7 linked regions of the Homo sapiens genome follow. The protein of the gene in region 5 interacts with the protein of the main gene of each other region in a pairwise test. Each region holds a gene or a part of one and is shown on either strand. Other genes may lie near its edges. The genes, in order: ZSCAN23, CUTC, NT5C2, CDA, SDCBP, ZCCHC10 and HPRT1.

The links.
Region 1: the proteins of SDCBP (region 5) and ZSCAN23 interact in binary tests that used the Homo sapiens proteins (3 or more experiments, as listed by UniProt).
Region 2: the proteins of SDCBP (region 5) and CUTC interact in binary tests that used the Homo sapiens proteins (3 or more experiments, as listed by UniProt).
Region 3: the proteins of SDCBP (region 5) and NT5C2 interact in binary tests that used the Homo sapiens proteins (3 or more experiments, as listed by UniProt).
Region 4: the proteins of SDCBP (region 5) and CDA interact in binary tests that used the Homo sapiens proteins (3 or more experiments, as listed by UniProt).
Region 6: the proteins of SDCBP (region 5) and ZCCHC10 interact in binary tests that used the Homo sapiens proteins (3 or more experiments, as listed by UniProt).
Region 7: the proteins of SDCBP (region 5) and HPRT1 interact in binary tests that used the Homo sapiens proteins (3 or more experiments, as listed by UniProt).

The regions. Positions count from the first base shown.
Region 1 is NC_000006.12:28,436,992-28,440,491, reverse strand, and holds part of ZSCAN23 (zinc finger and SCAN domain-containing protein 23), read left to right. Parts: exon of another isoform or gene 1-417; intron 418-3,500. UniProt on the Homo sapiens protein: May be involved in transcriptional regulation.
Region 2 is NC_000010.11:99,742,234-99,745,733, forward strand, and holds part of CUTC (copper homeostasis protein cutC homolog), read left to right. Parts: intron 1-919; coding exon 920-1,129; intron 1,130-1,803; coding exon 1,804-1,839; intron 1,840-3,500. UniProt on the Homo sapiens protein: May play a role in copper homeostasis. Can bind one Cu(1+) per subunit.
Region 3 is NC_000010.11:103,102,773-103,106,272, reverse strand, and holds part of NT5C2 (cytosolic purine 5'-nucleotidase), read left to right. Parts: intron 1-471; coding exon 472-567; intron 568-891; coding exon of another isoform or gene 892-915; intron 916-3,500. UniProt on the Homo sapiens protein: Broad specificity cytosolic 5'-nucleotidase that catalyzes the dephosphorylation of 6-hydroxypurine nucleoside 5'-monophosphates.
Region 4 is NC_000001.11:20,595,597-20,599,096, forward strand, and holds part of CDA (cytidine deaminase), read left to right. Parts: intron 1-3,500. UniProt on the Homo sapiens protein: This enzyme scavenges exogenous and endogenous cytidine and 2'-deoxycytidine for UMP synthesis.
Region 5 is NC_000008.11:58,570,261-58,573,760, reverse strand, and holds part of SDCBP (syntenin-1), read right to left. Parts: intron 2,875-3,500; coding exon 2,796-2,874; intron 1,557-2,795; coding exon 1,447-1,556; intron 1-1,446. UniProt on the Homo sapiens protein: Multifunctional adapter protein involved in diverse array of functions including trafficking of transmembrane proteins, neuro and immunomodulation, exosome biogenesis, and tumorigenesis.
Region 6 is NC_000005.10:132,996,485-132,999,517, reverse strand, and holds the end of ZCCHC10 (zinc finger CCHC domain-containing protein 10), read left to right. Parts: intron 1-667; coding exon 668-935; 3' UTR 936-2,533; downstream 2,534-3,033.
Region 7 is NC_000023.11:134,466,665-134,470,164, reverse strand, and holds part of HPRT1 (hypoxanthine-guanine phosphoribosyltransferase), read right to left. Parts: intron 1-3,500. UniProt on the Homo sapiens protein: Converts guanine to guanosine monophosphate, and hypoxanthine to inosine monophosphate. Transfers the 5-phosphoribosyl group from 5-phosphoribosylpyrophosphate onto the purine.

The sequences.
Region 1 (3,500 bases), on a different chromosome or scaffold from region 5:
ATTCAGCAGATCATGTTTCAAGCCATGATGATCTCTTCCCTGGATGATTATCATAGCATCCCTCTCTGCCTCCACTTAACCCCAAGGTCATTGACACAGCGGCTAGAGTTATGCTTTTGTGTTAAATGGAAGTAAAATTTTGTTACCCCTTGGCTCAAAAATCCCCAGTGGTTTCCATATCTCATAGAATACAAGTTAGAGCCCTTACCACTGCCTTTCATGATCAGTTCCCAAGCTCCCTGCTTTATCTCCTGTTACTTTCCCTTTTGTTTTCTTTGTTCCAGCCATTGTTCAACTAGCTATTACCTGAAGAATCCAGGTGTGTTCCCACCTGCAAAAATTTGCACTTGGCAGTTACCTTTGCATGGAACAGTCTTTCTCCAGATAGCCATGTGACTTGCTCCTCACTTCCTTCAGGTCTGTTCAACCATTACCTTATCAAGGCCTTCCCTGACTCTATAAAATAGCAACCTTTCTTTCCCCTTACTCTCTCTCTCCTTACCTTTATTTTCTCTATAGCATTTATCACTACTTCACAAATACTTAATTATTATCTGTTTCCTCTGACCCGTTTTCCTCATCCTGGCCCCTCTTTTCCCCAACAGAAGTTAGTGTTGTAGCAGTGGAGACTGTAAATTCTGATGTCAGATTTGTTGGGTTTGAATTGCAGCTTCACTGCTTACTATCTGTAACTGACTTGAACTTTGGACTAGTAACTTAAACTTTTCATATCTCAGTTTTCTCATCTGTGATATGGGGGTAATAATAGCACCTTATTCATGGTTGTTTTGAGGATTAAATGGGTTAATATATATAAAGCATCTGTAACAATACCTGGCACGTTAAAAGCACTATAAATGTCCGCTATTATTAATACTGTTATTAGGATGTAAATTCCATGAGACTAGGGACTTCGTTATAATTGCAGCTGTATCCCCAGTGCCTAGAACAGTACATGGAATATGGTAGGCTCTGAATATATATTTGCTGGTAGGCTCTGAATAAATATCTGCCAAGTGAATGAATGGTGTATGAAAAGTTATGACAGAAAAAGATAGTATGGTAGTCACAGTGGTGGTGAGTCGCACCAAGAAAAGTGGAGGAAGGCTGGGCGTGGTGGCTCACACCTGTAATCCCAGCAGTTTGGGAGGCTGAGGCAGGCAGATCACGAGGTCAGGAGTTCGAAACCAGCCTGGCCAACATGGTGAAACCCTGTCTCTACCAAAAAAATACAAAAATTAGCTAGGCATGGTAGCGGGTGCCTGTAATCCCAGCTACTCAGGAGGCTGAGGGGAGAATCATTTGAACCTGGGAAGCAGTGAGCTGAGATCGTGCTGTTGCACTCCAGCCTGGGCGACAGGGTGAGATTCCGTCTCAAAAAAAAAAAAAGTGGGGGAAAACATGAATTTGCAGATTCTGTCTTTAGAGGAAAAAAATCCTCTGTACATTTCCTGGGGTAGTGATTACAGAAGGTAACCAAACCAAAGATGTCAGAACTTTATGGAGAGGATTATGTGTGCAGGTTATCCGGAAGGATGCTGTCCCATGCCAGTAGTTTGTTTCCCCTTTGATAAATATAACCAATAATCACAATATGAATCTAATTTTTCTTCGGGTTGTAATGTGATCAGTGTTCACTTGTAATTTAAATACCTGATATGGTTTGGCTGTGTCCCCATCCAAATCTCATCTTGAATTATAGTTCCCAATTTCTCATAATCCCCATGTGTCGTGGGAGGGACCCGGTAGGAGACAATTTAATTATGGGGGCAGGTACCTTCATGCTATTCTGGTGACAGTGCGTTCTCATGAGATCTGACGGTTTTATAAGGGGCTTTTCCCCCTTTTGCTCGGCACTTCTCCTGCTGCTGCATGTGAAGAAGGACATGTTTGCTTCCCCTTCCACCATGATTGTAAGTTTCCTGAGGCCTCCCCAGCCATGCTGAACTGTGGGTCAATTAAACCTCTTTCCTTTATAAATTACCCAGTCTTGGGTATGTCTTTAGTAGCAGCTTGAGAACAGACTAATAAAATACCCTATTCTTAGTTATTTAATTTCACAATGCATGTCAACACCTTAAGAATAGTGTAGGGTTGCTGGGCGCGGTGGCTAATGCCTGTAATCCCAGCACATTGGGAGGCCAAGGCGGGTGGATCATCTGCGGTCAGGAGTTCGAGACCAGCCTGGCCAACATGGTACAACCCTGTCTCTACTAAAAATACAAAAATTAGCCTGGCATGGTAGTGGGTGCCTGTAATACCAGCTACTCAGGAGGCTGAGGCAGGAGAATTGCTTGAACCCAGGAGGCGGAGGTTGCAGTGAGCTGAGATTGTGCCACTGTACTCCAGCCTGGGCAACAGAGCAAGACTCCTTCTCAAAAAAACAAAAACAAAAACAAAAAACAACAAACAGAATAGAGTAGGGTTATTTTTGCAATGGATTACAACAATTTTACTTAAAACAAAAATATTTTATTCTACAGGTTATTATTCATTTGTGGGTCATAAAATCTATGTGGTGTGTCACAACCCACCACATAGATTTTATAACCCACAAAATCTGTTCCCAGGCTTTTTTGTTTTGTCTTTTAATGAAATAGGTTTAAAAATAATTGTATGTCACTATATAGAGCAAGGATACATAGTGTTTTGTGAAATTATTATTTTAGGTATTTGTGTATCTCATAAATGCACAAACATATATACATATGCATGTGTGTTCTGGGTTATAATATAAAATATTTCTTAATAAGAGTCCTGGTCAAAAAAGTTTGAAAGTCTCTACTCGAAGATGGTGCTTAGAAATCACTGGGTCATATAATTGTTTTTCTTTCAGAAAATTTTCTTCATTAATTACTATCCTGGTAAAGATTGCTCATAAGTTTGTTTGTTTTTGTTTTTGTTTTTTTGAGACAGAGTCTTGCTCTGTCGCCCAGGCTAGAGTGCAGTAGTGTGATCTCAGTCCACTGCAACCTCTGCCTCCCGGGTTCAAGCGATTCTCCAGCCTCAGCCTCCTGAGTAGCTGGGATAACAGGCGTGTGCCACCAAGCCCAGCTAATTTTTGTATTTTTTAGCAGAGACGGGGTTTCATCATGTTGGCCAGGCTATTCTCGAACTCCTGACCTCAGGAGTCATAGACATTTGTCTTTTTATTAGCAGTAATTTTATTTTACATAAAATTGCCTACTCTCCACCTTCAAGTAGCTTCAAAGAGAAAAAGTTTCAAAGAAATTAAAGGGCAAGAGAAAGGTCAAATTCTACTCCTGTTTTAAAGTACTGGAACCAATATTTCCGTCATTTTAGTATCTCTGAGCCTAGACCACTGCAGTCAACTACTTTCTGATTCTTTTGCCTTAGCCTTAAACCACTAGGATATTCATTTAATCATACAATAACATAAGAAAAATAAGTGTTACCACTTTGGAGTTTACTAAGTAGCCAACTTCTTTGTGCTCATTATCCTCGTTTTATCTTTGTATCAACCTAGAAAGATAGGCAGT
Region 2 (3,500 bases), on a different chromosome or scaffold from region 5:
AGGGTAAATCCAGTCACTGTTACCCTGTCTTGGCCAAAAGCAGAAGTCTGTGTATGAATTGTGGTCTCCTAAGTTATGCTACTCTGAGGTTGATAATAGCATTATTTAATGTAAAAAGTTTGTATACACAACAGCCCTTTGGAATCTTCACATGAAAAGAGGGCATTCCTGGCCATTCTAAAATCCCTAGAGCATGTCTGTAAATTTGAGTACAGTCTGTTTTTGTAACACCAATTATGATTCATTGCTTAGTATTGGACAACTGCTATCCTATGCAAAATTGGAGTTCTTTTAGCAAGAAAAAAGAAAGAAATTCATACTGGGTAAACAACTGATGGGGCCTGTCACAGCCTTATACTATTGATGGTTTATGAGCTAGCCACTTATTATGGCATATTTAGGTACTTTTATGCATAGATCTCTGCATAAAATCACAAATAAGTAGAACTTTGCTCCCTTTCACGTATCTTGTTTAAAAAAAAAAAAAAAAGGTTTTGCTAAATGTCTTTGCCCATTAAAGGAATATGAACTTTGAAGCTATTTAACCATCTCTCCAGTAGGTTTTAAATAGAGCTGTAATGAATTAGAAAGAAGAAATTGGATCTTGGGGAATAATGTACTGGCAGAACATCGAGCCTGGTAGTTATTGCACTTTCAAATGTCACCTACCAATAAAAGGGTTCTGAGTCATAAGGATTTTTGTTGAGTCAACTGACAAGTGCTTTTAAATTGTAGCATCTTCTGTTTTCTAAATCGTTCTATTTAACCCTTTGCTATTACTTACCTTCTACCATATATACATTTTTCTTCTCAGTGTCTGTCCTACCTTTTAGAGCCATCTTTGTCTGGTAAATGACCAATAATATATCATTGGCTTTTAGCTCACATTTGAATTTTAATCTGCTTTCTTTTCTTGTAGGTGTCCTTCAAGTAGTGAAGCAGAGTGTTCAGATCCCAGTTTTTGTGATGATTCGGCCACGGGGAGGTGATTTTTTGTATTCAGATCGTGAAATTGAGGTGATGAAGGCTGACATTCGTCTTGCCAAGCTTTATGGTGCTGATGGTTTGGTTTTTGGGGCATTGACTGAAGATGGACACATTGACAAAGAGCTGTGTATGTCCCTTATGGGTAAGAATTTGTATCTAAGACGTAAAAGCCTCTAATGATAATTGTATTTATGCTCACAATATAGAAAAACAACATCACAAAACTGACTTTGCGGTCATAGCTACAGACACTTATACTAACCTAAGTATTTCAAATAGTAGTTATTTAGATGTTTGGGGTGGGGTGTATGTGTGGCAAAGCCTTCTTAACTCTCCTCAATTGCTATAGATTAGGCTCCGCTACTGTTCCCATAGAATAGAAATTTAAGGGAAATTTACCATGGTTCCTTTAACCACTGCACCAAGAACTTCAAAAGTATTATAGTTGGTGAGGATGGACCACCAAGTTGGAAGATGCAAAGAGGACAGAAGCAAACTACCTATGTTACTAAACCAAAGTACTTATTGAATGACCTCAGAGGGACAAGTATTAGATGTAATGCTGCCCTTATAGTTGTCAGATTAAATGGTTTTCATTTGGTGATAAGCCACGACCATTTTTTTGTATAAAAATCAGAGATTTGTGGAAAGATAAGACTTTTGAATTTGTAAGGCTGCCATTTTATTATTATGTCAGTTTACTGTCTTGTTAGGCGAAGAAAGTATTAAAAAGTTTCAGCTAACATGGAGAATTCTATATATAGTAATCAGTGATGACATCTTCATTCATGTTGTTATATGACTTTCTTTTTATAGCTATTTGCCGCCCTCTGCCAGTCACTTTCCACCGAGGTGAGTCATTTTCATTTTAAAAGTTCTATTGAACAGTGTTAGTTTTCTAATTTCAACAACTGCCACCACCTTTTTATGGAACACAATTCTGTAGTGTTCCAAGGTTACCAATTGGTTTTTTAGATCCTAGGACTAAAAGTTATAAAAGTAGAGATGTGCAATTTCTAGAAAATTTGAAGCCTTAGTTATGAAAAGTTGTTAAAAGTGGGTGTAGGTGGTGGTGGGATATAAGAGAGCGAGGGAGAGAGCAAGTATTGCCTTCAAGTGTGTGTACCTATCATAGCATTCCAAGCAAGAATCCTGAGACTCATTTTAACTGAGACTGTATTAGGTCATGTGCAACCCCAAAAGAATAAATTGTTGTGGCTGGTGAAATGAAAGGTACTGTCTATCTTAAGCCAGGCAAAACCATCCCTGGGGCTAGCAGTGAGGTGGGGTTTCACAGATAGAGACTTCTTAAGGGGAGAGAAAGTTGGGTATCTGGAGAAGAATTGGGTCTTATTAGGAAGGGAGAAAGGAGAAACAGATGCAATCTAGTGTTGACTATCTAGTCAATGAACAGATGTCCACAATAGTATACAAAATTATTTTTCATTATAGCTTGTCTGCACCACAGTGATTTTTTAATGTGATACTTTCTTGTAAAGAAATATTTCCTGTAAAAAATCAGGTAGATATAATTTTTTTTGTTTGTTTGTTTGAGACGGAGTCTCGCTCTGTCGCCTAGGCTGGAGTGCAGTCGCACGATCCGGCTCACTACAACCTCTGCCTCCCGGGTTCAAGCAGTTCTCTGCCTCAGCCTCCCGAGTAGCTGGGATTACAGGCGCCTGCCACCATGCCCAGCTAATTTTTGGATTTTTAGTAGAAACAGGGTTTCACCATCTTGGCCAGGCTGGTCTTTAACTCCTGACCTCGTGATCCACCCGCCTTGGTCTCCCAAAGTGCTGGGATTACAGGCGTGAGCCACCACCCCTGGCCAAAAAATCAGGTAGTTATAATTTCTATACTCTTAGGCTACACCTTGGTAAAATGGAAGAACAAGTATCTATTTTGCCTTCAGAGAGCACTGCCATTGCACATGAAAAGAAGTCTACAGTCAAAAAAAATTTTTTTACTTCAAATTTCTGTTCTGTTCTTTATTCCAATAGGTTTAACAAAAATATTTTCATATTTTCAAAATTTGTAGAATTTTTGGGTTCCACATTTTTCTCACTAATGTATTTAATGAGATATCATAATATAGTTTTAGTGGTGAGAAGGTGCTGCCACCAAAATAGGGAAATCCTCTGTGGTAGATTTAGTTGCCTACATACACTAAAGGGTGAAATGAAGGGGCCTGTCCCAGAGGACCACTACCACCTAATCCACTGCAGGCTAGAGCTTCAATGTCATGTAGCAGTATGAGAACCAAAGCAGAAGTAGATTTTCTGTTTTCAGTTTCCTGATACCACTTTACTCTTTGAGGGCTCTGAGGAGGGGAGAAATCTCTTAGAAAGTAGGATGGGGCTGGGCACAGTGGCTTACCCCTATAATCCTACCACTTTGGGAGACCGAGGTGGGTGGATCACAAGGTTAGGAGATTGAGACCATCCTGGCCAACATGGTGAAACCCCGTCTGTACTAAAAATACAAAAATTAGCTGGGCGTGGTGGCGCATGCCT
Region 3 (3,500 bases), on a different chromosome or scaffold from region 5:
CGTGTTTCTCTAATACACTTAACATGATAGAAGCTTGGCAGTTTCCATTTCTGGATTTGATAGGGAATATTTAAGATTAAGAAAATGATGTTTGAGATGCTATCATATATATCCCACATACAGCATCTAATGGAGAAAAATATAAGCCTTCTCAGTTGTCCAAGAAAAAAGACTATGTTTTAGAATGGTACCAGCTGTGTAGTAAGAAGAATGTTTTTTATACCTTGTTTGATTAAGCACTTATTCCTTACAGAAAACAATTATGATTTTCTGTCTGGACGGAGTCAATATTTTTTAGTTGCTTTAGAATTAGTTTTTAAGATTTTACTCACTTTAGCTATATTAGGACATACTTTGAGTTGGTACAAAGCTTGAATTAAATGAGGTTGGTTCATGATGATTAAATACTACTACATAAAATTATTGCCTGTATTACTTTGCATTATCAATAATGTCTTCATTTTCACATAGGGGACTTGTCTTTGACACACTGTATGGAAATCTTTTGAAAGTCGATGCCTATGGAAACCTCTTGGTCTGTGCACATGGATTTAACTTTATAAGGGGGTGAGTACAGAGAACCTTTAGCCTCTTTCTAATGTTAAAGTCAAACAATGTGAAGATGACATCATCTCCCCAGATGTAATATATTTCCCTATTACTTTTCATCATTAAAGAGCAAATTCCCTTACATAAGGTTAGTTAACAGTTATTTATTAGGCAGTTGGAACCCAAACTGACATATAGTTAGCAATTACATTTTGTTTAAATTAAGTGCCTTCCAATTATACAGCATACAACAAAACTAATCTTAAAACTTGCCCAGAAGAACTTTAGTAGTTTTGACTTATTTGAAATTCTAAGATTTTTATTTTCTTCTTTCTAATACAGTTCTCAGGTAGCTGTTCAGAAGAGGTATGTATATAAAAATGCTTTGAAAAAATTTTAAACTATAGCAATTTAAATGATTAAGAGATTTTTAATAGCCAATACGTTTTTTAGATTCTAATGAATCTAAACTTTGAATCCTGACATTTGATTGTGTCATTAAAAAAATGTAAACATAAGGTTAAAGTGAATATGTGCTAATAATATTTTAAACAAATAAGAATAAGCTTTATTTTCAAAATAAAAATATTTCCACTATTGTCACTAATTTGAACTTTTTACCCTAGTAAACAGCAGATGAAATTTAGTATCTACTATTTTTTTGTGAAATGTCCCGATATTTTCAAATCATAATGCCACAATTTGACAACTTCTGTAGCTATAGCTTTACTGTTATACATTTTCTCTACTGTTATGCCACCTTATTTACTATTGACATTGTATTAAGGTCAGAACAACAGCTCGTAAAACCAGAATAGGATGTGTGTCAGTCTCTTATGTAACTTTTCCATTTACTATTCATTCTTGATGGCAGAATAGGAAAAACACCAGGCTACATTGAAATGTTTAAAAAGACAATGTCTTTTTTTGTGATAAGAGGCACAAACCAACTGTAATTGTACCAGAGCTTCCTTTAGATTTGAGGTCACAGGATGCCCCTTAGAATTGAAGCATCTAAGACTCTTTAGTTGGCATTACTGACATTACACAGGCTCAGAGATTTCCATGTATACATGAGAACGGTGTGAAGTAAACACCCATCTTGACACATCTGAGCAGGCCAGTGATTACATCCACATTTCTTTCACTGTTTCTTTCATGAGGGGGTTTGTTCAGGATCCATGAAAATATCAGGAAACAGGATTTAGAATATGAAGTAATTACAGGTTGTACTAGTAACTTAAGCTATTTTATACACAGATATTGTCATCATAACTCAGAATCTCAATGAAGATGAACCAGGGTTCTATTATGTCTAAAAAGGAATTTTTGTATTATAAGGGAGGGGTAGGCAGAGAAGAAAAGAGAAGCAGTTGGATAAGTTAGTACTACGATCAAATTTCCAACTCAAGATCCACAGACTTCCTCTCTTCCCTTAAATAAGCCAATAAAGTTTCCACATAGCTCCTTTGCTAATGCATTTAATAGTGTTTCAAAAATAAGTCATTTATGAGTAAATGCAGAATCATTCAAATAGCACTTAGCACTGTGCAGTCTTTAGAGTTAAACAGAAAAGCTGGCCAGGCACAGTGGCTTACGCCTATAATCTCAGCACTTTGGGAGGACAAGGCAAGAAGACTTCTTGAGCCTAGGAGACCAGCCTGGACAATAAAGTGAAACCCTATCTCTACAAATATCAAAAATTAGCTGGGCATGGTGGTACATGCCTTTGGTCCCAGCTATATGGGAGACTGAGGCAGGAGGAGTGCTTGAGCCCAGGAGGTTGAGGCTGCAGTGAGCTGTGTTGGTGCCACTGTAGTACAGCCTGTGTAACAGAGCAAGACCCTATCTCAAAAAAATAAAAATAAATTAATAAAATTAAAATTCCCATGAAAAGAAGAGACTGAAGATAGAGGGAAAGAAAGTTATCGAAGCTATTACAGTGGTAGACAAGGCTGGAAAAGAAGGACTCCATCAGGCTTTGCTAATGAGTTAGGACCTTATTTTTTGATAAATTTTTATTCTGTGGGTCACAGAAAGTTAGTAGTAATCTGTGCTGTAACTGTTTTCTTCCCATTCCAAGTGTAGCATTTCTTTTATGATATATTACCTCCCCCAAATTGATTTTTATTTTAAATATATACTAGTGTGATTTGACACTGAAGTTTACAATGTAATTGCTAACTATATTTATAAATCAATTTGGGTTCTAACTGCCTAATAAATGTTAACCATCTTTATGTAAAGGAATTTTTCTTTAATGATGGAGGGAATAGGGAAGTATATTGTATCTAAGGAGACAGTGTCAGCTTATTAAATCTAACTGAAGAAAGTATATTTTTACTGTTACCTTCCACCTTACTTTTATTAAAGAAAATCTTGGAAAGCTAGAAGATAAGATACTCTACAAAGTTATTCATTATTGGGAACTCTCATCTCAGAAGAGTGACTTAAGACAGGGAGCTAATGTGATTTTTATATGTCTAACTAGAGTTTATGCCATTTGTAGTTAACAAACCCAGGCAGGAATTAATCCAGGTCACTCTGAGTGTGAGCTTTAAATTTGATTTCCTTTATTTACATTGTTAATCTCCATGTATTCACTGTCAGAACTGTGCATTTTTATATTTTAGTATTTTTCCCTTTGAGTTTCTCTGAAATGTTTTCTTCTAGAAGTGTTTTTGCATCTTTAACAAATTCTGCTTCACTGGCTTTTTTCTTTTAAACCTTGAATTTTCTTCATGGTTCTGTTCTGTCTCTTCTCTTCCTTCTCTGCACACTAAGTGGTTTCATCTCCTCTAATACTTTTCATGATTCCATCTAGTATCTGTACGTAGATGATCTCAGTTATCTCTCAAGGCTGAATCTCTTTTAAGTTCTTGACCTTTGTTTCTAATTGCCTAATAAAAATCAGTTTACTTCAAACTTAGTATCACTAAAATAGAACTACT
Region 4 (3,500 bases), on a different chromosome or scaffold from region 5:
CAGTTAGTCCTCTCCACTGTCACTCAAAAGTGGCTCATTTTGTGACCAGCCTAGGCAACAGGGTGAAACCCCATCTCTACAAAAAATACAGAAATTAGCCAGGCGTGGTGGCACATGCCTAGAGTCCCAGCTACTCGGGAGGCTGAGGCAGAAGGATGGCCTGAGCCCCGGTGGTGGAGATTGCAATGAGCCGTGAGCACGCCACTGCACTCCAGCCCAGCCCGGGCAACAGAGCAAGACTCTCTCAAAAAAAAAAAAAAAAAAAAGGCCAGGCACGGTGGCTCATACCTGTAATCTCACTCAGCACTTTGGGAGGCTGAGGTGGGTGGATCACCTGAGGTCAGGAGTTCAAGACCAGCCTGGCCAATATGGTGAAACCTCGTCTCTATTAAAAATACAAAAATTAGCCAGGCGTGGTGGCAGGCGCCTGTAATCCCAGCTGCTCAGGAGGCTGAGGCAGGAGAATCGCTTGAACCTGGGAGGCGGAGGTTGCAGTGAGCTGAGATCGCACCATTGCACTCCAGCCTGGGTAACAAGAGTGAAACTCCATCTCGAAAAAAAAAATTGTCTCATTACATAGGCAAGCTTTACTACAGTCCCTCGACTAAATAGCTGAGTTCGAATATAATTCATACCTGAAATGGTGCATTTGCAGTGGGAGGAGGTTAGGAACATGGAGAGAGTGTCGTATTTCTTCAAGTATATGGACAGAACATTCCTCACGTGATTCTCAAACGTGGTCCCAGAACTGCAGCCTCAGCAGCTCCTGGGAACTTGTGAAAATTTGAAATTTTTGAGCTCCAACCCAGCCCAGACCTATTGAATCAGAAACTCCAGGAAAGAGGCTTACAAGTGTGTTTTAAGAAGCCCTCTACTCAGGAGGCAAAGGCAGGAGGATTGCTTGAGTCCAGGAGTTCAAATTCCAGCTGGGCAACTAATAACAAGACCCTGTCTCTAAAAAATATAAAAATAAATAAATTTAAAAAGAGAAGCCCTCCAAAACATTCTGATGCCCACTTGCTTGAGTGTGAGAATACTGCTTTAATCTTGCTAGGATCCCTCAGAAAAGAGAGTGGGTGCAGTGCTTTCTGGCATTATTCTTTTCTCTGGGTGGCTGGGCCCAAATAGCCTCATTGTGAGCTTCTTTCCCTGTTGATGTCTTTTTTTTTTTTTTTTTTTTTTGAGACAGGATCTCACTCTGTTGCCCAGTCTGGAGTTCACTGGCACAATCTCAGCTCACTGCAGCCTCGACCTTCCTGGCTCAGGCGATCCTCCCACCTTAGCCTCCCAAGTAGCTGAGATCACAGGCATGCACCACCATGCCTAGCTAATTTTTAAAATTTTTTGTAGAGACTGGGTTTTGACATGTTGCCCAGGCTAGTCTCGAACTCCTGGACTCAAACAATGCACCCACCTCAGCCTCTAAAAGTACTGGGATTACAGGCGTGAGCCACCACACTCAGTCTTGCTGATGTCTTAATAACATCTGACCGCAGCCCTGCCTTAAGCACCAAACCACCTCAAAACATGGCCTTCCTTCCTGCAAGGCCATAGAGAATAAGAAGAGTCTGGCCGGGCGCCGTGGCTCACATCTGTAATCCCAGCACTTTGGGAGGCCAAGGCAGGTGGATCATGAGGTCAGAAGATCAAGACCATCCTGGCTAACATGGTGAAACCCCATCTCTAATAAAAATACAAAAAAAATTAGCCGGGTGTGGTATGCAATCACAGCTACTTGGGAGGCTGAGGCAGGAGAATGGCGTGAACCTGGGAGGCGGAGCTTGCAGTGAGCCAGGATCGTGACACTGCACTCCAGGCTGGGCGACAGAGCGAGACTCCGTCTCAAAAAGAAAAAAGAAGAGTCCATCGTATCTCACAGGCCAGGATGCATGTTTTGGCCTCCTGCCACCAGCCTTCACTTTTACCTTCTGTAAAATGGTGTTCTAACAGTATTTACCTTACCCAACAGTTAAAAGGATTAACTGACCTTATGCAGGTAAAGCACTCCACAGAGTGCCTGGCCTATGAGTGCCCAGTAAAAGAAAGCAATTAGTAATACTGGCACTATGATCGTAGTATTATTTGGTCCTATCTTATTATTATGGATTTCTAACTTAGCACCATCCCAATCTCTCTCATGTATGTTTTGAAGTAAGCAAAGGCAATAGCAGAAACAGAATTGGTTTGCCTGGTCAGAAGACAGCCTGCTTTCTGGGCTGAGAGAAGCAAAACAAAATTGCACAGCATTTCAGGATGCAGTACGTGGGCAAAGGCTTCCTTCCTTTTTTTTTATTTGCCTTTTTTTTTTTTTTTGAGCTAGAAAATTCAAGGAAATTACTTGAATTTGTTACAGGCTCCAAATACAGTTATTCCTCTGCGTCTTAAGCATCTAGAACTGAAGTGGAAAATTCCACTCTTTCAATAATGGTTAGCCATCTTAGCTCAGGCCATGCTGTGGTTTGAAGGTTTGCCCCCTCCAAAATGCATAAGCGTACTTTGGAGGGCTTCTCTTTTCAAATTTATTATTTATATACACTTTTAGAGACAGGGTCTCGCTATGTTTAATTGCCAATGCAACAGTGTTGGGAGGTGGGACCTAATAAGAGGTGTTTAGGTCATGAGGGCTCTGCCCGGTGAGTGGATGAATACCGCTATAAAAAGGGCTTACAGTATGGATTCTCTCTCTTTCACTCTCCTGCCACATGAGGAATAGTGTTCCTCCCCTCCAGAGGATGCAATGTTCAAGGCGCCATCTTGGAAGCTGAGACTGGGTCCTCACTAGACACCAACTTGCCAACAGCTTGACCTTGGACTTCCAAGCCTTCAGAATTATGACAAATAAATTTCTGTCCTTTATAAATTACCTAGTCTGGGATATTACGTTACAGCAGCACAAAACGGACTAAAACAGGCTGCTATAACAAAATACCATAGACTAGTGGTTTAAACAGCAGACATTTATTTCTCACAGTTCTGGAGGCTGGGAAGTCCAAGATTCAGTTCTTGGCGAGGGCCCTCTTTCTGACTTGGCCATTTTCTCACTATGCCCTGACAGGATGGAGAGAGAGAGTTTAAGAGTCTCTTCTTCTTCTTATAATAGCACTAATCCCATCATGGGGGCTGCCCCCTCACGACCTAATCTAAACCTGGTTATCTCACAAATGCCCCACCTCCTAATAGTATAGCGTTGAGGGTTAGGACTTCAACAGAAGAATTTTAGGGAGACACAAACATTCAATCCATAAGAGAAACTGAGAGCCCCATGACTTCACTGTTCCAGGCCCAGGACATACCACAACACATGTTAGAGACAAAATCTCTGCCCTCAGAAAGTTTGTAATATAATAGGAGGAATTAGATAATAAAGACATTTATTTCAGGAGACTGTTAAGTGCTATGAAGAAAATTAAAGCAGGAGAAATGGATACAGAGAGTTGGAGGCAGTAGTGGGAGGAAGCCATTTTAGATAGGTGATCGGAGAAAGCGTCTCTGAGAAGGTG
Region 5 (3,500 bases):
AACTGTGCAAATTATAATTTCGTTTGTCAGTGACTGGAATGACAAGCACCTCATTCCTTCCTGTGTGCCTCCTGCTCCTGTCAGTACTGTGTAAGCCTGGCCCTTTACACTGGCAGCAGCAGTTGGTTCCAGTCTGCAACTTTTACTGACACTCCCAGAACCAGCCTCATTACAACCCCTCAGAGGCACTAGTAGTGTCCCCTCATCCAAGGTCTGAGTCCCAGCTCCGTGGGGCTCTTCCTCAAGCTTCTAGGTTCTGCTAACTCCAATCTCTCTCCTGTGTTATCCCAGTCCTAGGAGAAGCAGCTAGCTATCTGCAATTACATCTATGTCCATTTATGTTTTTTTCAATTTTTCAACCTCTTAAAATACCTACTATTATTTGTTTTCCCAACTGCATCACCACTAACACAAGCAAGTTTTCAATAAATATTTGGTAAATACATAAATGCCAGGTACTGTATATGCATTGGGATATGGCAACAAGACAGACACAGATTTAACTACAATTATAATAAGTGGTACAAAGTGCTATGGTCATAGCAATAACCTTAATAAAAGGTTATCAGACCCATTATAATTAAGCTAGACTCTGGAGTCTAATTACATGGAGCTTTGAATTTCAAAAAGAATGTTAAAAGATTAAGAGCAAAGGCCAGGCACAGTGGCTCATGCCTGTAATCCCAGCACTCTGGGAGGTCGAGGCAGGTGGATCACCTGAGGTCAGGTGTTCGAGACCAGCGTGGCCAACATGGTGAAACCCGGTCTCTACTAAAAATACAAAAAATTAGCCAGGCATGGTGGCGCGCGCTTGTAGTCTCAGCTACTTGGGAGGCTGAGGCAGGAGAATTGCTTGAACCCAAGAGGCGGAGGTTGCAGTGGGCCGAGATCACGCCATTGCACTCCAGCCTGGGTGACAAAGTGAGACTATGCCTCAAAAAAAAAAAAAAAAAAAAAAAAGATTATGAGCAACAAAGATATGATAGACCTATATGTGTATTTCAGAATGATTAACTTAGCAGCGGCTTAGTACTGTCTGAAATAAGTTACTAGAGGAAATTTAAGAGAGTACTATAATAATGAAGGCTAGAAGTATAGAAACCCTGAATATGGTTATAGTAGGACTAGAATGGATAAAAAACAGATAAAATGAATACAAGAAACAGAAACAGAATCAATAGGACTTAGTAACTGACTAAATGCAGAAGACAAAGGAGAACGAACTAGTAAAAGGTATCTGAATCTAAGTCCTAATAAACTCAAAACAGTGTAGCACAAAATGAAGTAGACTATATAAGAAATGATATCCAAAAGGAAGTCTAAAATTTCTGAGAAGTGAGGTTCAATGCTAGTAGTATATCTGTGAGTTAGCCACAAAGAGGAAAGCTTATACTAACATGTAAAGTATGATTTTATATAAATCAAAATTAATTACACTATACATACCCCCTGAAGTGGTGCACCAGAAACCACGGCCACATTTGCACGTATTTCTTCTTCATTTAAACTCAGCCCCATGTATTGAGAGAGCTCTGGATACAGTCTGGGATAGAGATCTAAAAAGTAAATGAATAAATTAAAAAGCACTTACAGAATACACAAAATGAAAACTTCTCTCATTATGGGCTTCTGCGTATTAACAAAATTACACTTAAGTTATAAAATCTAGAATGAATTTAAAGTAGCAATTTGGAAAGGCATCTCCCCATCTCTGTAATAATGAGAAATGGAAAATACAGAAAATGTTTAAAATTCGTAAAATATGAAGACATCTGAACTGAAACAACCAGAGATTCCTAAACACTCAAAAGTAGAAATAACTTTTCCAAATAAACTATCTTGCCTTTCCTGTTTCTTAAAATAAACTTACTTGATTAGGAATTTAGTAAGAATGCCACTGATTCTCCAATTCAGAACAACTGACCAAAATATCTATTTGTCAAGTCAGCTACTTTATAACTCATTCTGTAAACAGGGATATGGAATGATTCTTATGAACAATTTTTTTTGGAAGCTTGTAAATTTATTTAGTGTCTTATCATTTTAATAATTTTAACCACATTCCAATGAAATCCTGGAAATGGTATTTTTAAATATTAACATTATTTCACTTATTAGTAGTTATATACTATTTCCAAAAGCTCTTTTTTACATGAGACTTAAATTATCTGTGACTTAAAATGAATTTTCTATGAGGCACAATGTTATAAACTGTTGTAAGACAAAATGACAGGCCACAAAAACTTATTTAACACTTATTTTGTATCTTAAGTCATAGTATTTAGGAGCTCTGTCCTGAATCCCTCTGAACCTTGAAGAAAAAGGGACCAAAGACAGGATACAGAGAATGAATAAAGGCCTTAAGATTTAGGAGGCTTCCCAAAGAGGAGGTGGTTGGAAATTTCAGAAGCTCCCATAGGAAAGACAGAAGACAATTCAGAAAGTTCAACAGCAGCAGCATGATAGTTCTTAAATGTGAATTCATATAGTTCTCATATGTGAATTCATATATATAATTCATTCATAAATGAATCAGCCACGTTAGGGATTTACAAGTCAGTCTAAAATTAATTTTCATTAAGCCATGAAATACATCCCCATATCCACAGTTCACTATCTTAATTAGAAAAAGGGTTATTTTTTGAAGTAAACTTTTTTTTCTTATTCATAACTATTTGAGCTTAACTACCAATTTTATGCAGCCTGTCCAAAAAAAAATCTTGGATTCCTTATATGAGCAAAAGAAGATAACAATATTTCTGTTCACAGAGAATGAACTCAAAGTATAAACCTACTTCCATCGTGAGGGATAGGAGCAGAAGCTTCTGACAAAATTGCTGGATTGGCAGGGTTTGCAGAAAAAGCAGTTTGAGCCTGAAAAAGAAAAGAAGAAAATTCTAACAATATGCTATACTTACTTTATATTCTTATATAATTTATAAGCTAAATCCAGTACTTCCAAAAAGAAACTAAAACAATGAAGATTTATGTAAGAAAGTTTAATTTCAAACACATCAGCAATACATTTTCCAAAGGAAATCTGCAAATCAAAACTATATTTGATATTCTAAATACTTTTAAGGCTATCACAAAAAAATTGTAGAAGTACCATTCTACATGTCTTATAACCAGCACTTCATAGTGCTGCCACAATAAATTAATATTTTCAAAGTGCATTCTAAAATGAATAAATTTTACATTTTCATTATTCTTTTACTAATTAGTCCAAGTAAAAATATTTTATTTGCATAAGAAAAAACCTTACCCATATTCATATAAAAGTCACATATCAGAAAAACACCTAAAAAATTAATACTAAGCATGTCCCACTGAAATCATCTTTATCTTCATTGCAGCAAGTATAGGAAGGGGTTTATGCTAAATACTTTTAAAATATCAGAAATTATGAAAATAGCACAGTTTATCACTGACATAAATCGATGATGACAAGGTAATGTAATTTGTAACTGTTAAACAAACTTGCCAAAATCACTCTGACA
Region 6 (3,033 bases), on a different chromosome or scaffold from region 5:
AGTAGTTAAAATAAAGATGATGAAACAGTCACCAGCTAAGCTACGTGAGGTTTAAATAGACCCAATTGTTATACTGCAGCTTTATTCTGACATTATTCCCTCTGAAATGTAATATAGTAGATATGCTTATCTTGAATTCCATCCAAGAGAATTAAGTTGCTGAAGTAACAATGCCTTGTAAAGAGAGGGACTGTGGTTTACAACAGGCAATCTCCAAAATATCAAACCTAAGGATAACATGCTAGCAAAGCTTCAATATATAAGCATATATATGGAATCATATGAAATCGCTTTTGGCTGGGCGCGGTGGCTCACGCCTGTAATCCTAGCACTTTGGGAGGCTGAGGCGGGCAGATCATGAGGTCAGGAGTTCGAGACCAGCCTGGCCAACATGGTGAACATGATGAAACCCCGTCTCTACTAAAAATACAAAAATCATCTGGGCGTCGGTGTGCGCACCTGTAATCCTGGCTACTTGGAAGGCTGAGGCAAGAGAATTTCTTGAACCTGGGAGGCAGAGGTTGCAGTGAGCTGAGATTGTGCCACTGCACTCCACACTGGGCAACAGAGCAAGACTCTGTCTCGAAAAGAAAAAAAAAATGAAATTGCTTTTAACATTCTATTACATGTCACCTTCCCATGTATATAACTCTGTATTGTCTAATAGGTCTAAGAGTGTAACCAGTTCCAGTAGCAGTAGCAGTGACAGTTCTGCCAGTGATTCTTCATCAGAGAGTGAAGAAACATCTACCTCTTCCTCCTCAGAGGACAGTGACACTGATGAAAGCTCCTCTAGTTCCTCATCCTCAGCCTCCTCCACAACCTCTTCCTCCTCCTCTGATTCAGACTCAGATTCCAGCTCTTCCAGTAGCAGTAGCACCAGCACAGATAGCAGCTCTGACGATGAACCACCAAAGAAGAAGAAAAAGAAATAGAGTTGCTCCATTCATATTGGACTGATGGACTGAAAACATTGATGTGATTCTTGAAAGGGAATTTAGAATATGTTAAGGCCAAGTAGGTTAACTGGTGAACATTTCTAGAATTCAAAAGTTTCTAAATGTTTTACATTGTAAGAGCATAGAGAATATTAATAATGGCTTATAGAGAGAGACTTTTATTTGAAGGGTGAATCTTGTTTTTTTTATCTTTAAAATATATCTCTAGAACTTAAAGCTGAAATCTGCAAATCTGTTTGTGTGATGAAACTATCTTTTCTCTCTGTGAAATAAATGCCATACTTTGTTATATATGTTAGTGGTATGTATCAGACATATTTTCAGGATGGTGCGTCAGGATATCTGGCAGTGGATTTCTAATGCTTTTGGCTGTATGTTATGTAAGATTTAATATGTTGTTACTGTAAGCTTAGGAGTTTTCCTACTATTAATAAATGTGCTCTATTTTTACATTTATGTTCAGAAAGTTATCTGACTTTTTGTCCTAAGTGGTATGTTCAAGGAGCCTATTAATATATTTATAGTTTTTGAATGCTGTAAGTTTCAAATTGCTGTGTTACGTCATTCATTTTCTTCTGGTTCCTTAAGTTTTTCAAGTTATCCTTTTCTGAGGAAAATTATTCTAGAGGAACCTAAAAAGGGACAAAAAAATTGAAACTTCTTAGGAGTCTAATCTTGGTGCCTTCTGTTAAAAGTCAGTGTATCAGAAAAGAAAGCAGCCATGTAAGAGGCTAACTTAAATAGAAGTGCTAGAAATATCTTTGTGTATTAACATGCAATAAAAGGTACCATTCAAAGCAGGGGGAAAGGTAGGAAGAAGAGGTAATTTTTACTGAAAATTAGGGCAATGTTGGTCGCCTTTTATTAAAAGCTTTTTTTAAGCTTTCATAAAGATTGCTTTTTGCTATTTTTGAAAATATGGTATTATAGTTTGTATGGTAACTGGTCATATATGACAGTCTACTGCATATATATGAATGACTAGGATTAATCTGGTGTGTTTACATAGGATATACATAGTTGAAATCTAGCATGAAAGGTTAAAAAGGAGATACTGCACAATATTTCTTAAAAGTAAAATGCTGTTATTGTGATGAGTCTTTGGTTTAACATCACAGTATTCTGTGATGTCTTTTTAACTTTTTGGAAAGAGGTATCATTTGTAGAAAAAATTTGATTTGGGTTAAATATAGGTTTTTAAAACTATAAATGTTGTCTTTTTTATATTTTTATGAAAAAGCAGTAGAAAATTACTTTTGAAGAAAACAGGCTATTTAAATATTGAAATATATGTATGTTGTGAGTTTAAGGAGCCTGTAATTGTCAGTTTTACAAAACCATCTGTGTTCAATGGTTGTAAATAAATTCTCAAAACATCATTTCAAAGGCTGCCTACAGAATATTATCACTTGACAGATAGAGTTAATAAATTACCAATCAGGCACATTTTATAATGTTTGTCTCTGTAAAGGTAATATTAGCAGTTAAAGAACACGGATGAGAAAAGAATGTGTTACATAGGTTGCATCACTTGCAGTTAAATAAAACTCACAATTTGTGCTCACAAGCTTAAACTTCTGTTATCTCTTTAGTGTTTTATTTAATGTCAGTTATTCCATTTGAGGTGTAAAGACATTTGAACAAATTCCAATTTTAAAGTTTTACTATTATGGCTGTTAAAAGTATGACTGCAGAGGTACAGAGAGCAGGAACTCAGTTCTTCTAGTCACACATTTCATTCAAAATGACAGAATCAGGCTGGTCACAGTGGCTCATGCCTGTAATCCCAACATTTTGGGAAGCCAAGACGGGAGAATCACTTGAGTCCAGGAATATGAGACCAGCCTAGACAACATAGTAAGACTCTGTCTCTACAAAAAATTAAAAAATTAGCTGGGCATGGTGATGTGCCCCTATAGTCCCAGCTACTCAGGAGGCTGTGGCAAGAGAATAGATTGAGCCCAGGAGGTTGAGGCTGCACTGAGCCATGAGTGTGCCACTGCACTACAGCCTGGGTGACAGAGTGAGAAAAAACAAAAAACAGAATCAATGGCAAAGTGGAGACTAACTTCTA
Region 7 (3,500 bases), on a different chromosome or scaffold from region 5:
AGGCAGAAGTCAATATTGATTTGTTTTTAAAGAAACATGTACTACTTTCATAAGCAGAAAAAATTTCTATTCTTGGGGGAAAAGATTATGCCAGATCCTCTAGGATTAAATGCTGATGCATCTGCTAAACCTTCACATATCAGAACATATTTACTATAGAAAGAATGAAAATGGGACATTTGTGTGTCACCTATGTGAACATTCCAAAAATATTTTACAACAACTAAGTATTTTATAAATTTTATGAACTGAAATTTAGTTCAAGTTCTAGGAAAATACAAACCTTGCTAGATATTATAAAAATGATACAATATATATTCATTTCAGGCTCATCAGAATATATCTGTTATCACTTGACAAGAATGAAAATGCACCATTTTGTAGTGCTTTAAAATCAGGAAGATCCAGAGTACTAAAAATGACTTCTTCCTTGAAGCTTACTCACCAACTTCCTCCCAGTTACTCACTGCTTCTGCCACAAGCATAAACTAGGACCCAGCCAGAACTCCTTGAAATATACACTTGCAACGATTACTGCATCTATCAAAATGGTTCAGTGCCTGGCTACAGGTTCTGCAGATCGACTAAGAATTTGAAAAGTCTTGTTTATTTCAAAGGAAGCCCATGTGAATTCTGCCCAGAGTTCATCCCAGATATGCAGTCTAAGAATACAGACAGATCAGCAGAGATGTATTCTAAAACAGGAATTCTGGCAATATAACAAATTGATTTCCAATCAAAACAGATTTACATACCATACTTATGTCAAGAAGTTGTTTTGTTTTATTGCATCCTAGATTTTATTTTTTTGATTTATGGTTTACTTTAAGCATAAAAAATTTGTCAATACAACTCTTCCCAAAAGGCATAAACAAAAATTCATAAAACTTGCATCACTTGAGATACTTCAGGTATGAATTCACAACTTTGTTACAACTTACTATATATATGCACACATATATATATATTTGGGTATATTGGGGGGGTTCTAATTTAAGAAATGCATAATTGGCTATAGACAGACAGTTGTCAGAACTTGGCAATGGGTACGTGCAGGTTCATTATACCAAGTCTACTTGTAGTTGTTCAAAATGTATCATAATACAAGGCCGGGCGAGGTGGCTCACGCCTGTAATCCCAGCATTTTGGGAGGCTAAGGCAGGAGGATTGCTTGAGGTCAGGAGTTTGTGACCAGCCTGGGCAACAGAGCAAGACCCTGTCTCCAAAAAGAAAAAAAATAATTTTTTACAAAATAAAAACAAAATGTATCATCAGACGAAATTAAATAAGAGGCAATTCATTTAAATGACAACTTTTCCCAGCTTGACATTTAACAAAAAGTCTAAGTCCTCTTAATTCATATTTAATGATCAAATATCAAATACTAATTTTTTTTTTTTTTTTTTTTTTGAGACGGAGTCTCGCTCTGTCGCCCAGGCTGGAGTGCAGTGGCGCGATCCTGGCTCACTGCAAGCTCCGCCTCCCGGGTTCACGCCATTCTCCTGCCTCAGCCTCCCGAGTAGCTGGGATTACAGACATGCGCCACCACGCCCGGCTAATTTTGTATTTTTAGTAGAGATGGGGTTTCTCCATGTTGGTCAGGCTGGTCTTGAATTTCCCACCTCAGGTGATCTGCCTGCCTCAGCCTCACAAAGCAGTAGCTGGGACTACAGGCACCCACCACCACACTTGGTTAATTCTTTTGTATTTTTTTTGTAAAGACGGGATTTCACCATGTTAGCCAGGATGGTCTCGATCTCCTGATCTCATGATCCGCCCGCCTCAGCCTCCCAAAGTGCTGGGATTACAGGCGTGAGCCACCCCGCCCGGCCATCAAATACTAATTCTTAAATGGTAAGGACCCACTATTCAGAACCTGTATCCTTATCACTAATATGCAAATATTTATTGAATACTTACTATGTCATGCATACTAGAGAGAGTTAGATAAATTTGATACAGCTACCCTCACAGAACTTACAGTGTAATAGATGGCATGACATGTACATGAGTAACTGTGAACAGTGTTAAATTGCTATTTAAAAAAAAAGACGGCTGGGCGCTGTGGCTCATGCCTGTAATCCCAGCACTTTGGGAGGCCAAGGCAAGTTGATCGCTCGAGGTCAAGAGTTCGAGACCAGCCTGGCCAACGTGGTAAAACCCCGTCTCTACTAAAAATACAAAAAAAAAATTAGCCAGGCATGGTGGCACAGGCCTGTAATCCCAGCTACTAGGGAGGCTGAGACATGGAGAACTGCTTGAATCCAGGAGGCAGAGGTTACAGTGAGCCGAGATCATACCACTACACTCCAGCCTGAGTGACAGAGCGAGACTCCGTCTAAAAAAAAAAAAAAAAAAAAAGATACAGGTTAAGTGTTATGGTAGTTGAAGAGAGAACTCAAACTCTGTCTCAGAAGCCTCACTTGCATGTGGACCACTGATATGAAATAATATAAATAGGTATAATTCAATAAATAGGAACTTCAGTTTTAATCATCCCAAACACCAAAACTTCCTATCAAACAGGTCCAATAAACTCAATCTCTATAAGAGCTAGACAGAAATCTACTTGGTGGCCTATAATCTTATTAGCCCTTACTTGTCCCATCTGATATTAATTAACCCCATCTAATATGGATTAGTTAACAATCCAGTGGCTGCTTTGACAGGAACAGTTGGAGAGAGTTGGGGATTGCAACATATTCAATTATACAAAAATGCATTCAGCATCTACCTTGATTAAGGCAGTGTGCAACAGAATTTGCAGGAGAGTAAAAGAATGATTATAAATTTACAACCCTTAAAGAGCTTATAGCTGGGCGTGGTGGCTCATGCCTGTAAATCCCAGCACTTTGGGAGGCTGAGGCGGGTGGATCACCTGAGGCCAGAAGTTCAAGACCAGCCTAGCCAACATGGCGAAACCCTGTCTCTACAAAAAATACAAAAATTAGCCGGGTGTGGTGGCACGTGCCTGTAGTCCCAGTTACTTGGGAGGCCGAGGCAGGAGAATCGCTTGAACCTAGGAGGTGGAGGCTGCAGTGAGCCGAGATTGTGCCACTGCACTCCACTTCAGCCTGGGCGACAAGAGCAAGACTCCGTCACAAAAAAAAAAAAAAAAAAAAAGCTTAAAATCTAGTGGGAAAGGCATATATACATACAACTAACTGTATAGCATAATAAAGCTCATAATCTGTAACAAAATCTAATTCGACAAGCCCAGAAACTTGTGATTTACCAAAAACAGTTATATATACACAAAAAGTAAACCTAGAACCCAAAGTTACCCAGCACCAATGATTCTCTCCCTAAGCAGTATCAAGTTTAAAGCAGTGATTACATTCTACTGCCTAGATTGTAAACTGAGTAAAGGAGACCAGCACCTTTCTGCTACTGAACTAGCACAGCCGTGTAAACCAACAAGGCAATGGCAGTGCCCAACTTTCTGTATGAATATAAGTTACATCTGTTTTATTATTTGTGACTTGGTGTTGCATGTGGTT